Regions from separate parts of the Homo sapiens genome. Here region 2 is linked to region 1. The links come from fine-mapping of genetic effects on gene expression. A gene starts in region 1. The other region holds a variant in brackets. All regions are shown on one strand. Distances are between the middles of the regions.

Region 1 (9,231 bases):
CTTTGTCCTCACATGGCAGAGAGAGAGACAGAGAGCAAGCTCTCTGGTCTCTTCTTCTAAGGGCACTAACCCATCATGAGACAACCACCCTCACGACCTCATCTGAATCTAATTACCTCCCGAAGGCCCCACCTCCTAATACCAACACATGGGGGGTTAGGCTTTAACATTTGCATTTGTGGGACGCATGCATTCAGTCTATAACACCTACATAAGGCCATCAGGAGCCAATACCTATCCCAGGGCCCATACCCCTATAGGCATCACACTGGCTGCCAGCTGGCAAGGCCTTCAGCAGGACTGGGAGGAAAGCTTCCTTTTCCAGCTTCCCATCAAGGCCTCCCCAAAATGGTCACCTTGCCACTACAGTGCCTGGTCAGAGCCTGTGTAGTGTGCTCCCAAGGATTAAGGTTTTGGGAGGGGTAGGATACCACCGCATCAATCCTGCCTGAAATCACACAGCCATTGGCTGGGGCTTGGAAGTCTTCTGCTGGCCCTGAGATTTCCACCATCAAGGTAAGAGTTATCCTAGCACTTGATCATAGTCCTGGAGTCTCGAATGAAAAATGGCTTGGTCCACTGCCCCAGGAATGCCTTCTGCAGGGTTTGGCTGATCAGTTGAGGATTCCTGCCCAGTAGCAGGAGCTTGAATCTTCAAACTGTAGACTGTAAACAAGCACATGTACTCAGAGGATCAGAAGGGACTAGGAAGCAAGAAAGCATCTTGTCCAAAGTCTCAGCAAAGGTGTATTGGCATGACTCTAGCATCTGAATGTCTGTCACACCCCAGGAAAGGGCTCTTGGCAAAGGCCTCCCTGCAAGAAGCTCAGAAGACTTCAGACCCCGGCCCTGTCCCTTCCCAATGGCCCATGAGAAAGCCGACTTTCTTGAATAGGAGCCAGAGTTTTGTGTGTGCCTCTCCAGGACATACACCAGGTTTTGCCTGGGAAATATAAATGGCTTCTGTGGAGGGACATTTTTTTTTCTGTCTTTGTTTTGTTGAAGAGAAATCCAAGACCCAGGAAGGGATGTGAGTTGGGCCAAGAACCAGAGGTTTTAAAACACGAAATGGGAAACTCAGACTTCCAGACAGTGGCTCTGGAGCCTGGGTCTGTAATTCAAACACTAAGAAGTATGTGGAATAGTGATTGGTTCTCCAAGAAGAAGAATGGAGGAGAGGGATGGAGGAGTGGGGAGGGCAGAGAGAAAAATGGGGCTCAAAAGCCTGAGCACCATGAGGGGCTGAGATCACAGAGAGCAGAGGAAGGGAGGCACCCAACAGAGGAGGAAAGAGGTGAGGAAGAATGGCTGGGGGCAGATGCTCAACCCCCTGGTAATCAAGAAAATGCAAATGAGATGCTACCACCATCCCACAAAGATGGGCAAAAATTGAGATGGGCGGCAATGCCAAGTGCTAGTGAGAGCACAGAGCAATGGGAGCACTCATGACAGCTGGCAGGTGAGATGCAAATGGGCACAAACCCTTGGGAAAGTGGTCTGGCTTTACCTGATAAAGCTAAAAATGCACAAACCTAATGTTCAGCAATTCCACTCCTAGGAACCCACCCTTGAGAAAGTCTTGCACAGGTGATCCAGGAAAGGAGCTCGAGAGTGTCCAGAGCAGTGCCATGGATAATGGCCAAAATCTGGAAAAAATCTAAATGTCCAACAGGAAAATGAAGGACTAAATCATGGTGCACTCACAACATAGAATATTACAGAGCAATGAAACAAACGACTGCCCCACTCAACACTATGGACGATGCCACAGCGTAATGTTTAGTGAAAGAAGACAGACCCAAGAGACCACACAGGGTATGCCCCTACTTCTATAAAGTTCAAAGAAAGACAAAATTACATCGAGTGTTTAGAAATGCATACATAGGCCCAGCGTGGTGGCTCACACCTGTGATCCCAGCACTTTGGGAGGCCAAGGCAGGCATATCACCTGAGCCAGGAATTCGAGACCAGGCTGAGCAACATGGAAAAAACCCATCTCTACAAAAAAAAAAAAAAAAAAAAAAAAAAAATATATATATATATATATATATTTATATATACACACACACAAAGATTAGCCGGGCATGGTGGTGTGCACCTGTACACCCAGCTACTTGGGAAGCTGAGGTGGGAGGAACACTTGAGCCTAGGAGGCAGAGGTTGCAGTGAGCTGAGATCATGCCACTGTACTCCCACCTGGGGGACAGAGTGAAACCTTGTCTCAAAAAATGAAGCGAAATTAAATTAAAATAAAAATGCAGACATAGATGGAAAACTTGATAGAAAATCAAGGAAAAATTAGTAGCATGATTAACCCTAAGGGGAAGGGAGGCAGCTGTGATAAGGACAGGGCCCACGGGGGTGGGTTCTGGGAGGCGGCCAGTTTTTCTGTTTCTTGGCCTGGGAGGTGGCTACATGGACATTCACTTTATAATTATTCCTCACACTGCATGCATTTTATGCATTCTTCTGTCTGCAATAATAAACTTCCAGCCTCTGTGCTAGTGAGCAGAGTCTGGTGCCTCTGAGGTAGCCGTGGGGTCAATGGGAGGATGCGCTGCCCTCAGAGGCAGGTCTCTCCAGAGCTCAGGTTGACATCTCCCCATCCCTTGCCCCCAACTACCTCCCCCTTTCTTCAAATCTGTTAGTCTCAGGCTCCATGGGCTGAAACTGAGCCAGTCCTGGGAGCCAGCCTGTGGCTAGAAGGCTGCAGGGCCGTCTCCTGCAGGGCATTGGTGAGAAGAGCGAGGGACTGCCCAGTTCAGGATAGAAGCGATTATGGGCCCCTCACACCACTTCCTGGGGCCAGGCACCAATGCCCTGTGGCCTGCCTCAGTGATGCTCCGACAGAGTACGGGCCCCAGTCCCTCCCCTCCCAGCGCTCCTGAGGAAATGGCAGCCCTCTGAGGTCCCCCGCCAGCACCAGCCCTTGTCCTGGAGAAGTGACTGGCAAAACCTTAGTTTCAGGAGACTGAAATGTGCTCCAGAAAGGAACATGCCAATCTCCACCTAACAACAGCATCAACAACAAACAGTAACTTCCATTCTGCGCATGGGCTAACGTGCCAGCTGCCCTCCTGACTGTCTCCATGCTCACAGACAGCACCAAGGGGGCTTTTTTTAAACCCTTCTTCACAGATGAGAAACCTGAGGCTCAGAGAGGCAAAGAGCTCAAGTCCACACAGCCAGAAAGAGGGGGGGTTAGAATTCAAACCCAGAGCAGAGCCCCTCCAAGGCCTATGCTCTCACGGGGTGCCCCAGCACCCCTAAGCACGGGTGCCATCCCCACAGCATGCCCCCACCCTTCCCGGCACCATCGCCCACAGCACCCCAGGGAGCTGTTGCCCTGTGAAGGGTTCACCCTGAGGTAGAGAGCACTGCCCACAGAGGCCATGACTCGGGGAAGGGGTCAGCCCAGGCCAGCCCCTCCTTCCTTGGCTCCCAGTGCTCAGAGAACAGTGAGTCCAACCTCCTCCCCTAGAGCTGCCACATGAAGGCCCAGAAAGGGTCAGAGACATCCCCACGGTCACACAGCCTCCAAGTCACAGCAGGATGCTTTTTCTTTCTCTGTGTGTTTGTGCTTGCTCCAGTTCAGGTCTTTATCCCTCCCTCCAGGGACTTCAGGGGTCCTGACCCAGCCTCCCATTCACCACCTACAATAGATGGCTTGGTGGACCTATCGTCTCTCACCTCTCTGTCCAGAGGCCAAACCCCTGTCACTGGAGGAATCCAGGGTCCTTGGTCTCTATAGAGACGTTGATGCTCATGGGCCCAGGGAGGCAAGGACGGGGCAGCCCCAGGCCTGGCCCACCCTGGCCCCCACCAGCCACACAGTCCTGGGCCGCAGCCTCCTGTCTGAGCAGGGGCTGGGTGGCCACGAGCTCCACTGCTGGCGTGCTCCAGCTCTCAGCAAAGCTCTCCTTGAATAAACAAGGCTGCATAGCAACCACTCGCTGAAGGAGCCCATAGCTCCCTGCGCGGGGGAGAGACCGAGCCGAGAGATTTTCCCCTTGGTCTCATTGCCTCTGTGGCTCACCGGAGCACAGGCACTACCAAGTGGCCGACCTGTCCTCTAGGGTCATGGACACCACAGAAAGAGAGAGCACTGGGCCCCCCTGCCTGGTGACTGCAGCCAGGAAGTGCATAGCTGGCTTGGTGCAGGGATGTTGTTGGTAGAACTCCTGGTTTTGCTCACATGGCCTCTGGGCTCAATCTGCTTCTGTTTACTAACTCTCCTAGAGGCAGAAAGACAGAGTGAGCATCCAGGCCTTGGCAGCAGGCAGCTGGGTTTGAATCCTGATCCTGCTACTTCCAGCTGTGTGCCCTCTGGTCAGAACTTTACCTTTCTTGACCTCAGTTTCCTCATCTATAAAATGGGTACACCAATAGTACTGACTTGATAGGGTTGCTGTAAGGATTTCAAAGGTGCATGTAACAGCTTGTAATTTTGTCTAGCACTTGGTAGGCTCTCCATCACTTCCCCAGAAATCCTTGCAGAGCAGAAAGCCTGTGGCCTTCGTCCCAACCAGATTTCTCCACCTTAACTTTTGGAAAATGTGAATCCTAGCAGCCCATGTGTACTTTCTCACTGAACCCAGGCTCTTGGGCGGAAATCCCAGGCTGGCATCCTCTCTCTGGAATGACAGCCAGTCCCACTCCTCATGCTACCCCCTTCTAGCCCTCACCATCCAGGGGGCACACAGTGGAAGCCAAGGACTCAATTTGTATGCAGGCTTGCAAACAGCCACTCGCCCAAAGATACTATGAATTTTCCCAGGCAGCTCCTCCCCATATTCTGTACAAAGGAATCAGCAGGTGTGTGGAACACACAGGGATGGCTGGTGGGAGGCCAACTACACCCCACGAGGCCTGGGCTGCTGAAATGCTTGCACACGGGGTAGCTCCTTCCTGGGACTCTCTCCTCTTCCCTGAGATGGCCAGGGAGGGCAGGCCTTGGGAGTAGCTGCTGTCATTTACCAAGATCCAGGAGGGAGCAAGGAGGGCCAGCCAATTATGACTGAGAACAAGGTCCCTCTGGGGCAGGTGCTGGCCCCAAGCCAGAGGTCACAGCTGACAAGGCGAACGGAACTCCTGAACTCCCTGTAGCAGAGGCCCAGAAAGGAGACTCTTCCTCCAAACCAGGAACAGTGGCTGTGCGGATTCCCCTTGGGAGACAGGTATGAAGATGCCCAGGTGGGGAAAGAGAGGCCTGGCAAGTTAAGCCCTTGCCCCAAGCCACACAGCTTGTGAGTGAGAGCGACTCAACCATGGGAACCCAGGGCGGGGACGTGACAAGGCAGGTTTTGGTGTCCCTCAGCTCTGGCAGGGAGATGGTGTGTGTGCAGCTCCCCCAAAGCCCATCTGCATGTCGCTGCTTGAGTCGGAGCTTCTAGAACACAGATCCGATGGCCGTGCCCTGCTGGACACCCCTCATGGCCCCTGCTGTCCTTGGTGTAAGGGCCAGACTTAGCACCATGGCTGCCAAGCCCCTCTAATCAGGCCCCACTGCATCCTCCTTCAGCTCCTGGGCTCTCCACACTCTGCCTCCACTGGATGGCCGAGCATTATGTGTTCCCAAGGTGGGCTGGCCATGCTCTGTGCCAAATGCTAGAGACACAGGAGGCAGCACAGCCTGCCCTCAGGAGCTGAGTGATGGAGAGAGGCCCCAGCAGGTAACCCCCTGCTTGTTCCTGTGTTACCTGCAATAAGGGAGGATGGATAACACAGCACAGCCCTTAAGAACCAGGGCTCTGAAGCCCCTGGATTCCAGACTGGATTCTGATCCCAGCAATGACATCTTAGGCAAGAAACAAACTCTCTGAGTCTTGGTTCTTTCATATGCCTAGCAGGAAGACTGCAGATCCTCCCTCCCTGGGGTGGCTCCAGTGACCCTCAGTGTGCCCGCCAGGCACAGAGCACGCACTCACCCTCACTGTGACCATGGACAGAGAGCGAATCCCAGGGGCAGTGAGGTGTGACATCCACATGAAATCCCCGAGGTAAGGAGCAGGCCAGTCGAGGAGCATGGGTGGAAACCGCTGAGGCAAACACAACCTGAGCCCCGGGCCTCTGGGGGAGCCAGGAGCTGCCTGGAAGGATTGGGGCACTCCAGGTGGGGAGGGCAGCCAGGCTGCCACCTGGAAGCTCTCTGGAACTCCCCTGAAGAGACCTCAGAAAGAAAGGGACACGAATCCAGCCCTCAGTCATTTGTTGTGACTTCTTTTCTCATTCTAAAAAAATATTTTCATACTTAATTTTGTTTTCTTTCTTAAAGAAGCCCCCAAATTGTTTAAGCCTCGAGTCTCACAAAGCCTGTATCGACCCCTGGTGGAAGGGCGGCCAGACCCTCGGAAGAGGGTCAACAGCTATGAAGGAAACCAGATGTCACCTGTCTCCTCCAGTGCCCAGTGTTCCCAGTCATTGCCCCGACTCTCCTGGGTGTGCTCACACTGGCCTGCTCCCACCCCCAGAACCGATGAACAAATACTTGATGTGAATGAATTAAACTGACTCACAATACAGAATCACAAGCTGGGAAGAGGGCTCTTGAAAGTACCAAATAAGTAGCCCCCTCCACATCCACAGGGGATAGCCCCCATCTACCCCAGAAATCTACTCAAGATTTCAGAAACCAACATTCTATAACTTTCCATGCTGATGGATTTGGTCAGTGGAAGACTACTAAATTCTGATCCTGTTCCCTCAGTAAAAATGTCACCAAGAGTCCTCTTGGCCCTTGTTGATTTGTAAAGTGAACAAAGCTGTTTCTATGTCTAGCAACAAGAAGGACTAGATACCCTGAACACACTTCCCATTGCAAATGACCTGAGCATCCTATATCCAAATAGTCTCCTGAACACGTAGCTGGGCTATTAGCAGGGACTTCACTGAGGGGTCTTCTCCCCTTGCTCTGGGATGTAGCTGTCATGCTCCTCTCCTCTCCTGGCCTTTGTTCATGCTGTTCCCTCCACCCCAAAAGCCTTTCCCATATCCCTTCCTACCCCTTACTTATACCCATCTCCGGCCGGGCACGGTGGCTCACGCCTGTCATCCCAGCACTTTAGGAGGCCAAAGCAGGCAGATCACCTGAGGCCAGGGGTTCGAGACCAGCCTGGGCAACATGGTAAAACCCCGTCTCTACCAAAAATACAAAAATTAGCTGGGCATGGTGGCGCATGCCTGTAATCTCAGCTACTCAGGAGGCTGAGACAGGAGAATTGCTTGAGCCCAGGAGGCAGAAGTTGCAATGAGTCGAGATTGTGCCACTGCACTCCAGCCTGGATGACAGAATGAGACTCCATCTCAAAACAAAAACAACCAAAAAAAAAACACTTTATACCTATCTCCCTTGGCCAATTCCCACCCACGTGCTCCCAAGGGGAGTCCTTACTGACTCTCTAGAAAAGAGGTGCCTCTCATCTGCCTTTCTAGGGCCAGCACTTCCCTATCACAGCACCACTCATCCGCTGACTGTAACTGCCCGCCCCTCTCCTGGCCCACCAGCCAGCCACACAGACCTAGACTGTGAGCTCCTTGGGGGCAGGATTCATGCCTTATATCTCTGGAACCAGCGCCAGCCAGGTTCCACATGGGTGTTGAGAGAGCGACACCAACCTGACTGCACGTGGGGAGAGGAAGTGGCTGGCGGCATAAGAAGCCCCCGCCCCTGCAACATTCACCGCTTCTTCCAGGACCAGACCTGAGATCCAAGCTGCAGACCAGAGTCTCAGCCCCATACATTGTATGGCAGGGAACAGGTAGGGGGAGTTCTGACCCCCTGGGCTGGTGTTGCCCCCTTATAAACCAGGACCATCCCAGGCCTAGCTGGAGGTCAGATCCCAGGGAGCATGGGGAGCAAGGGCCCCTGGTAGGGACCCTAGGAGGTGGTATGCTCAGGCGCCTCCCCCATCTCTGTCTCAGGTACCCATCCCTCAGGATAAGGTGCCCCCAGGCTAAAGATGGTTAGCATAGGGCATGGCCAAGGGTTCCAGGCAAGTGGACAGAGAGTTGGTTCCAGTCCTGACTTTGTCACCATTACTGTGTGCCCTCCAACAAGTCCCTGCCCTCCTTGGGCTTCCAAACTGTCATTTGTGATCAGACACTGGGTGACCTCCTGGTCCCTTAGAGCCCTGATGCCCTGTGTCCTGGGCCCTGGCCCAGGCTGAGGAGAAAGGCTGGAAGCCCCCCATCCCTTCACAGGCCACGCCCCCCCAGGTAGAAAAGCGGATAATGGAGGCAAGCTGGCACTGCCTCCAGACTGACACTGTGCTGGCTTATCTCCCAAAATACCACTGCCCCACCCCCTCCAAGGCCAGCCCCAGCCTGGAGAGCCTGAAAGGCCCTGTCAGTACCACAGGCTGGGTGGGGGTGCTCAGACACTGCCAAGGACACAGAACAGGCCCCTCCCAACCAGCACCTGCCACTGGGCTGACGTGTTCCCTGGGAAGTTCCTGGGAAACTCTAGAATAATGTATGCAACCTAAGCACAGGATCAGAGAGAGGACTAGGCCAAGCCCCTCTTATCGCAGATGATGGAGTCACACAGGAATTCAGTGGTAATGACAGGATGGGGACTAACGCCTTCTGGTTATGCTGCTTCTGGCCCCAGCTGCCCTTCAGGGCTTCTCCCAACAGAAGCCAACCCCTCATCTCACATGGGGTGTGCCTCTCCCTCCTTTCTCCCCATTCCACAAAAGGACGTGTCAGAGAAGAGCAGCTCCCTGCCCCACAGCCACAGGAAAGCTCGAGAGATGGAGGGCAGGGGGAGGGGAGGAGTTAATAGGTGAGTAAATAACTCCAGAAGCTAATGGCAAAAAAGAATTTGATGGGTTTTTGTTGTTGTTGTTGTTGTTGTTTTTGAGATGGAGTCTCACTCTGTCGCCCAGGCTGGAGTGCAGTGGTGTGATCTCAGCTCACTGCAAGCTCCGCCTTCCAGGTTCACGCCATTCTCCTGCCTCAGCCTCCTGAGTAGCTGGGACTACAGGCACCCGCCACCACGTCCGGCTAATTATTTTGTATTTTTAGTAGAGACGGGGTTTCACCATGTTAGCCAGGATGGTCTCGATCTCCTGACCTCGTGATCCATCCACCTCGGCCTCCCAAAGTGCTGGGATTACAGGCGTGAGCCGCCACACCTGGCCCAGAATTTGATATGTTTTTATAAGAACATGCAAAGAAATAGGAAAATGTGTAAAATGCTCCTAAACTTCCACTTTGTAAAAATTAAGCATA
Region 2 (9,231 bases), 34 kb before region 1:
GAGAGTTCGAGACCAGCCTGGCCAATATGGTGAAACCCCATCTCTACTAAAATACAGAAATTAATCGGGCCATGGTGGCATGCACCCAGCTACTCAGGAGGCTGAGGCAAGATCACTTGAACCCAGGAGGCAGAGGTTGCAGTGAGCAGAGATCGCACCACTGCACTCCAGCCTGGGCGACAGAGTGAGACTCTGTCATAAAAAAAAAAAAAAAAAAAAAGAGTCAGTTGGGTTATATACATCAATAGTTCTCAGTATCAATCATATTATTCAATTACCACTTTCATGATTTTTGCCATATCTCTCAATAGCCTGTCCTTTCATTTACATTGCACTTCAAATCACAAAAGAATTTCAAATCCTAAAGAATTTAACTTTAAAGGGAACTTTCTGTCACTACCATAAACTAACATTGTTTGTCATAGAATATGATAAATATTTACAATGAAAGTAAAACAATGTTAAAACTCTAGCTAAAAAATTTGTAGGCAGCTTCTGTCTTTGAGCCTGAAAGAGGATCTCCTTGTTTAAAGAGAGAGGTGCCACCATGATTGCAAGTTTCCTGAGGCCTCCCCAGCAGCAGAAGCAACTATGGTTCCTGTACAGCCTGTGGAACTATGAACCAATTAAACCTCTTTTCTTTATAAAAAATAATAAAAATAAAAAAAGAGGTGCTAAAGACTAGCACCAAATTCAGACTTTCTACTTGAGACAATTGAAAGGATAGAAAGAGGATTGAAAAGGGAGATGAGCTGGCATTATTTACAGCATGGAAATTATGCTCTAGTCCATGATCATTTACCATCACATCCCACACTTACAGAAACTCTGAACCAAGCTGACTGTTTTTAAGTTTTTTTCAGTAGCAAAATCTTTCCAAATGAAATCTCACATGAATGCCCAGTATACAAAAAAAAAAAATGAGGCAACATAGAAGCTCCTCTGGTAGAATGGGGACAGAGCGTCCCCATGTCCCAGGCACGATTCCTGAGGTGCCCTGGTAGAAGCTCTGGACCCTCTGATTCCTGTCTGTAGCCAGTGCTGTCCAGCCCTGACATTTTATGAAGCAACAGGAAAGAAACCGAGGTCTTCCCCAATCCTCTCATCCTCTTTCTGCTGTTCACAGCTGCTTCCTTGGGTGCTATTGTCTAGTGTCTTTGGCCCTCGTGCACTGGTCACTCCTCCGGACATGTCACACAGGCTGAGGACATCACAACTCCAGTTGTGACATCCTGGGTCCCAAGCCCAGCCTGTAGACAATGATGAGTCCCTGACACTGTTTCTCTCTCTGGCAAGGCAACCACCACCCCAGGCTGCCTCCTGGTCTAACATGGACAAGGGGCGGAAGCAAAGCCACCGAGGTCACCTCTGCCATGCCTCAGGGCATCCTGAGGCAGCATGGGCAGAGGGACACGTGTGCCTGCCAGTCGGGCCTGCCCACCTGAGGCGTGGCGGGCAAAGCGGGGCTCCTGCCGGCTGATGGGGATGCTGGGCAGGGAGGCCCGGCTGGCCCACTTCCTCAGGATGATGCTGACGTCGTTTCTGCATGGGCCGCTCAGCCTAGTGGGCACAGACAGTGTCCCGCTGCCCCGGAGGGGAAGGAGGCCTGTGGACACAGAGAAAGTCCTAGGACTAGGCAGGTCTGTTTTCCCCTGGCCTCAATGTCCTCCTTTGAAAATGGACCCATGGCTGGCCAAAGTAGCTCATGCCAGTACCCCCAACATGTTGGGAGTCCGAGGTAGGAGGATGGCTTGAGGCCAGGAGTTCAAGACCAGCCTGGGCAACATAGGGAGATGCCCATCTCTACAGAAAATTTAAAAGAAATTAGCCAAGCATGGTAGCACACGTCTGTATTTCCCACTACTTGGGAGGCTGAGGTGGGAGGATCCCTTGAGCCCAAGAGTTTGAGGCTGTGGTGAGCTGTGATTGTGTCACTGCCCTTTAGCCTGGGCCACAGAGTGAGGCTCCATCTCTAAATAAATACATAAATACTAATAAAAATTTTAAAAAAGAAAATGGGCCCATCAGCAGGCTATGAGAGAGTGGACTCAGCTCCCCAGGCCTGAGCAAATCCCACACCAGGCACCCAGTACCTTCCTTCATGAAGGCTCTCTGGGAGCCCAGGCACTGGGAAGTGAGCTCCTGCCCTGTCCTGGGCTCCTCCAGCCTCCGAAGCAGCTCCATCTCCTTCATCTGCTTCAGCTGCATCTTCTCCCGGGCAGACTTGGAGATGGTGACTTGGATCTGGCACAAGGTCAAGGCAAACTCTATTAACCTCCCATTCATTCAATCATCAACATTCAATCATCAAAAATGTTTCTACTGTGTGCCAATTGCTGTCCTGGAAGTGAACAAAAAAGACAAACTCCTTGCACCTTAAGAGCTTTGAAGTGTGGGGGAGAGACAACAAACAGACCAAATGCTGATATCAGGCAGTATGTGCTGAAAGAAAAGTAAGGAGACAGAGATGATAGTGGCTTTTAGCCTAGAAGGTCCCTAGGGACTCCCCGAGGAGGTGAAGCTTAAGTGGAGACAGAAATAAAGGAAGGAGACCAGCCCCACAGATTTCTAGGAGAGAAGTGTTTGAAGCAGAGGGAGTGAGTGCAAAAGCTCTGAGGCCGGGTGTGCTTGGCTGGTTGGGGACAGTCAGGGGGTGGACACTGGCTGAACTCTCTGAGTCAGAGAAGTGACAGGACACAAGATCAGGCAGGGGGCAGGATCCACATCACCCGGGCCAAGGAAAGGACTGGGCTTCTCCTCTGAAGGACACAGGAAGCCGTTTAAGGTTTTGAGCAGAGGAGTGACATGATCTGCCTTCCACTGGTGGGGGCTGTCTCTAAGTGTTGTTTTTTATAATTTTTTATTTTGAAATAGTTTAAGACGCAAGAACAACTCGTAAGTTGTCAAAATAGAACCAAGACTTCCTGTGTTCCCTTCACCCTTCCCCAGTGATAATATCTTCCACATCCACAGAACGTTCTAACTTCCATTTCTCTAAGGCTCATGCCAGCTGCTGCACGGGAAGGGTCTGGAGCTAGCCTCACACTGGAAGCAGGAAGAGTGTTTAGGAGGCAGCTGAACATCCAATCAAGAGGTGGTGGGGCTTGGACGGCGATGGGGATGGTGGGGTGGGCAGATTCTGGACATGCTTCTCAGGTGCAGCTCACTCTCTTCGCTGATATATGAGGTGCGGGGCGAGAGAGGAAGAGAGGAGCCAAGGACGCCCGAGGTGGTTGACCTGAGCCACTGGAAGGCTGGAGTTGAGTGGGCCCCTGGGGAGAGAGGAGGTTTTCTGAGGTGAGCATTCAAGGGTTGAGTTTTAGACACAGTCAGTTGGAAGTATAATTAGGCACTTAAGCAGAGATATTGAGCAGCAGCTAAACATGTTAGTCTGGAGGTCAAGGGAAGGTCTAGGCTGGCGAGGGAGGTGTGGGAGTCCTCAGCATAGAGATGGTACTTAATGTCTGGACTGGATGAGGACCTAGCGGGTCAGTATAAATAGACGAGAGGCCAGAGGGCTGAGCGCTGGGGGAGTTCCAGCATCCAGAGGCCGGGGAGATGAGGAGGAGGCAGCCAAGAAGGGCTGGGAAGGAGCTGCCTTTCACGTAGGCAGGACCAAAAAAGAGCCACCCCTCACCCCTATCCCTGGCTGGAGAATTCAAGGATGAGACACAAGTCGTATCAAAAGCTGCGATGGGGTCAAGGTAGACAAGGACTAACCGTGGCTGCATTTGGGAAGATGAAGGTCATTGGCAACTCCAATGTGGGCAGTTTCAGTGGGGAGTGTGGACTAATGCCTGTCAGGAGTGGACAAAGGAGAGAAGAGAGACACGGCAATCATTTTCTCTTGGTTTTGTTCCGCTTTCTTAAAATGAAAGAGGTAACAGAGAGCTAACATGCTGATAGCAATGATCCTGTTTCAAGGAGAATATTGTTGATGCCAGAGAGGGAACAAGTGTTGGAACTGAAGGATTAGCTGGATTGAGCAGAACAGCAGGAGAAGGTGGTGAGCCAATGGGATGCTTGAAATTGAGACCATGGTGGGGGGACACACTTTAGAATGCCAAGGCCTACGATGTGGCCACAGGAGGGAGCGCAGAAGTGGGGTGGAGGATCAGCTCGTTTCGCTGCACTGAATCATTGTTTGTGTTTCCTGTTCTGTGGTCCTCTCTACAGTGGGAGGGTTGTGGTGCTGATTTAACAGTCACCCAGTCTCTAACAGAGAATATGCACCCAGGAGGCCTTCAAGATATGCTTCTTGACCTGGAATGTTCTGTCTCAAAGAATGAGCACAGGCTCCTCACTACAGTGACTCCCCAAGCTTCACTAAATTCGTTCCAACCAGGGAAGAGACCACCTTCCAAGGTCACCTGAGAAGTGTGAGGTATTCGCCAGTCCCTGGAGCACAGCCCGTGGCTGATCAGCCCTGAGTCAGCTGCCTCTCATTTGCTATCTTGGGTGTTAGTTCAAACCACGC[A/G]GCGCAGTTCACCTAAGGCTTCCTGCTCTCTCCCCACGTCCGGCTTCCTCGTGAGCCCTGTGCAACCTCCCCGTCCTCCTTCCTTCCTCCCTCCTACCCCTTCAGCAACCCTCTGCAGTCTTCCCTGCACCTAGTTCCCCACCCCGCTTCTGACCCCCATCCTTTCTCTTCCTTTCTTCAGCCTTCACCCCAACCCCGTCTGCAGGTTCTGGCCTTTAGTACTTGGGTGGCTGCCTCGGGCTCTCCTTGCTCTGCTCTGTGGCTGGTCCCACTCTTGAATACTTCAGACACTTGCTTGCCTTCCTGCAGCCTGCGGTCCACTCCAGCCCCACTTCCTCCTCCTCCCGCTCCCCAGGTACCTTGGTGCCGATCTCCTTCTGGTCCTCTTCTTTCAGCGGAGGGCAGGCTTCTCTGGCACAGTCAAAGGAGAAGGCTGTCAGCGTGGGAGCAGACTGAGAAAAAGGCAGGGCAGGCTTCTTGGCAGCGGCAGGCCTGTCTCTGATGGGTGAGGCCAAAGGTTTTGGCTCTGAGGGGTTGAGAACAGGGGTGGAGCTGAAGACACCCAGGTCACTGCTGAGCTCACTGACCCTGTGGCTGGCTCAATTCTACTGCTAAGCCCCACACCCTCAATTCTTCCTCAATGGAGCAAGACCTGAGTTAGGTTTACTGTACAGGGCAGCACTGGCAGGCATGAGACAGACTACCTGTGGACCAGCATCACCCTCCATTCGTTCATTCACTGCACACTTTATTCCAAGATAGGTGTGGGATTGGGGAGGCTGGGCGGGAAACAGGGCCAGATGTGTTATCCAGGAGATGTAAGACATTTCCTGAGAATATAAGTAAGTGTATCTGTCCTGGGAGGTACGTACGGCAGGAAAAGAAAAAGCAAAATGGGCCCACCAATCCTTTCATATGACCATGGGCTTGCCTGAAAGCATGACGCAGCAGGAAAGGGCAGAGTTGCCAGGACCAGAGATCTAACACTAGTCCAGTCTCATTTCACAGACGGAAAAGCTGAGAGCCAGTGTGATGGTTAATGTTAGGTGCCATCTGGATTGGATGCTTACATAGCTGGTCAAGTATTGTTTCTGGGTGTGTCTGTGAAGGAGCTGCCAGAGGAGATCGACCTTTGAGTCAGTGGACTGGGAGAGGAGGACCCATCCTCAGTGTGGGTGGGCACCATCCAATCAGCTGCTAGCTGCCATCGCAGCTAGAACTAAGCAGGTGGAAGAAGGTGGGATCACCTTGCTTGCCGGGTCTTCTGGCTGCCTGCTTTCTCCCCTGCTGGACGCTTCCTTCTACTCCTCCTGCCCTTAAACATCAGACTCCAGGTTCTTTGGCCTTTGGACTCTGAGACTTGCACCAGTGGCTTGCCAGGGGCTCTCGGACTTTTGGTCACAGACTGAAGGCTGCACTGTTGGCGTCCCTGGTTTGAGGCTTTCGAACTTGGACTGAGCCACTACCAGCCTCTCTCTTCCCCAGCTTGCAGATGGCCGCCTGTGGGACTTCACCTTGTAATCGTGTGAGCCAATTCTCCCTAATAAACTCCTTTATATACAGACATATATCCTACTAGTTCTGTCCCTCTGGAGAACCCTGACTAATACAGCCAGTAACCTTCGAATGCTCTTGGGATGGATAAAATACCCGTTCACTTCCACTTGATGGCATCAAATCCACAGTATTGCTTTGTCATTCATATCTTCCCCATCAGCGGATTTTAAAGGTACATTTCTCATTATGAAGGCAGGGCTCAAACAGGTTCATTCATTTTCTGCCACCCACAGGGTTTGGAGCTCACTGTCCTTGGGTGAACCTGCAAGTCAGGGGTCTGCTGAGATGGGGCCACCAGCTGAGGCTGCCTGAGGCTGGAAAAGGCATCTTACCTCTGGGGCCCGTGCAGAGCTCCCAGGTCACCCAGGTCCTCTGCCCAGGCCATGTCTTCTGCAAAGGATTCCTCTGCTTGGTGCAGGGAGAAGGATCAAGGGCCAAGGGGGAAGAGGGGCTTTGAAGCCTCATCTGCCCAGAGGTAAGAGGCAGAGCAGAGGGCACATGTGGTAGGCACCACCTGGCCAGGGCAAGGACTGCAGGAATGCCACAGATGTGAGGAAGCCCCCAGCTTCAGACAAGACCCTGTGAGCCCCTACCATGTGCTAGGCATGTTGCACACAGAGGGCAGTGTCAGCCCAGTTGCCAGCTGGAGGGCAGAGAGCCCTTTAAGGACTTAACTATTTTTTATGTCACTTCTTCACCTCCACCCCAAAGGGATGCCCTGGAAAGCCCTGTCTGAGCAGCCTGCCCCTGCCACAGGTCCCTGGTGACCTGGTTCTCAAGCAGCAAGCTGGAGAGCCAGGGGAGGAAGTGGTTACTGACTGGGGTCTCCTGGCCCAACCCCCACACCAGCGTCCTCCGGGTTAGCTCTTAAGGTCACTCAGGGTGCCGGTGCATTTCGCCACAGACTGCCTGAGCTCACCCTGCTGCAGCCTGGCCCGGGAGCAGGGGAGAAGCAGCTGCCGCAGAGGTTTCTTGTGCCAGGTCCAGCTTTGTGTCTTGATCCCAGGGCCTCTTGGGCAACAGCCACCCCCCTTCGCCAACTGCCCCACCAGCTGAGCTGATTAGCAGAGTGACCTGCCAGGAAGCTGGTCCTGGGGAGGCCACCCCTCCTGCCGGGCAGTAGAGCGGCTGCCTCCAACTCCTCCCCACCCTGGCCTGGGTTCGGGGTGTTCTGCTCCCCAACCCTGCAGCAGAGGCTCAGCTTCCATCCACCCGTCCCACCTCCCCATAGAGTTCAATCCAGGAAGGATCCCTCCTCCCTCTTTAAAGGCCTCCTACCCTGCCCTGTCCCCTCTCCTCGCCTCAATCCTGTGCTGGCCCTATATCCTGACAGCTAAAGCTCCTGGGGCCAGCTGGCTGAGGTTTGTGGGCTCTGGTTTACCCTCTCATTCTCTAGGTGAGGAATACTCTCTCTACTTGCTTAACACACCGCAAGGGGCAGCTGCTTGATGTGTCAAGACCCCAGCTTTGGAGCCGTGGAAACTTGGCTGCAAGCCTGATGGGGCTCAGCGACCAGGGAGGACATCCTGCTCACAGAGCCTTCGTGTGCCAGCTCGTCTGTCACACACGGCCAGAATTGTCTCTCTTATCGAGGCCGTGGCAAGCTGCACAAGCTGGTGTACGTCATCACACCTGACGTACCAGAGCAGGTGTCAATAAATGTCACTTCTCTTCCACACCTCGCCCGGGCCCGCTGCCACCCTCCGGTTAGACCTCCGGTGACTTCAGCTTCCTGCTGTGAAATGAAGGGCCCAGACACAAGAGCTCTCAGATCTCCTCTGGCCCTAATTCTGTTTCCCTGACCCAGCCCAGGAATGTAGAGAGTCAAATAACAAAGGGAGGTGTGCATGGAAGATACGTACCCAGAGATGCAGGGGTCTTCTCCCGAGGCCCACTCCCCCGAGCCAATCTTAAAAGAACGGGGGAGAGAAAAGCATCATGAGGGATGGCCAGCCAGAGACACTGCTGGGGGAGCCCAGGGTGGCTCCAGGATGGGGCAATGGCCGAGATGGGGGACAGAGGGGACGGCACTGTTATCCCTGCAGAGGCTCTTGGCCCAGGATTCAAGCTGCAGGAGATACAGCTCCCTCTGCAAACACAAGGGCAGGCTGACCACCAGGCCAGGTTCAGCCCCATTTCCTGGCAGTGCAGCTCGCGCATTCCCCAGGAGGCTGACACCCACACAGAAACTGCTGACTTAAAGGAAGCCCCCACCCTCCCGCTGTGCTGCTTGGGCCTGTGGAGTTGACAGCAGCTGCAGTAAACAAGGGTAAACTGCCTCCCAGCTTAGACAGCACTGAGCTCAAGTTCTCCAAGCTGCCCCAACCCCGTGAGAGCTCAGTGACCCCTAAATAGTCCCACTCGTGATTGTAATCCCCATCCCAGGGCCTGGGGGGCGGAGCTGATCCCCTTTGCTGTGGCAGGAAGTCACCACTGTTTTGTACCAGAAGCTCAATCCCAATTACCCACAGGAGGGGGAAGACAGTGGCATCCCTGGCACTGGTTTTAATTGTAATTTCTTAAGTTGGAAGCACCATTTACTTATTCAACAGATATTTACTGAAGACCTACTATGTGTCAAGCACTATTCTAGACACTGGGAATGGAGCATCAATAAGACATGACACTCCCCGCCCTCCGGGAGCTCAGGTTCCCATGGAGACCAGCCCTGCAGCGTCCTACATGGCTTTCCCTTCTCGGTGGACATCAGGACCCACTGGGGGGCTGACAGAGTAACAAGCCACAGCAACAGGTCAGGAACACAATATCCCACACACTGGCCTCAGAGGATCACAGTCCAGGCCGGGCTGCAGGAGGGGCGGTAGGACAGCCCCCCTCAGTGCCTGCCTGGATGCAGGGGAACCCTGATCCTTGGGGACTGTGGAGGTCAGGGGAGTCCACAGGAGGAGCGGAGCTTCAACCTGGGCGTAGATCAGCCGGGATTCGCCATTGCTCCCAGGGCCAGGCCCAGCCTCTTGGGTCTGGACCCACAGGGAGGGATCGTGTGGGCTGGAGATAGTAAGCGAATGCTCCAGGGCACCCCTGACCTGGGGAGCTCGCCCACTAGGCCTTTGCCATTGTAACCCACCACTGCTTAACCACTGCCCAACGGCACTAAGAGGATTGGAGGCGGGCGGGGAGGGGAAGTGGAGCATCAAAGTCCACACAGTTGCCCTTGGCTTCTATGAGCTCATGGA

Alleles and levels. Positions count from the first base shown, and alleles are read on the strand shown. Sizes are in standard deviations (SD) of each study's normalised expression.
As copies of G replace A in region 2, the expression in skeletal muscle of the gene that starts at base 3,931 in region 1 goes up (small effect, 0.22 SD a copy in GTEx).

Evidence for each region. PIP is the estimated chance that this variant, and not a neighbour inherited with it, causes the effect.
Region 2: its variant is fine-mapped to the expression of TOGARAM2 in skeletal muscle (GTEx, PIP 0.98).

Annotation. Positions count from the first base shown.
Region 1 is chr2:28,975,998-28,985,228 of GRCh38, reverse strand. It overlaps TOGARAM2 (TOG array regulator of axonemal microtubules 2), which reads right to left and starts at 3,931. Exons shown (of 20, transcript NM_199280.4): 1 at 3,691-3,931.
Region 2 is chr2:29,010,167-29,019,397 of GRCh38, reverse strand. It overlaps TOGARAM2 (TOG array regulator of axonemal microtubules 2), which reads right to left. Exons shown (of 20, transcript NM_199280.4): 7 at 7,897-7,943; 8 at 4,837-5,003; 9 at 2,094-2,244; 10 at 1,442-1,606. Among named protein-coding and RNA genes, the nearest start is that of TOGARAM2, 33 kb to the right of the region's middle. RefSeq lists enhancers at 4,031-4,080, 8,107-8,236. The variant A/G (reference allele first, on the strand shown) is at 4,478.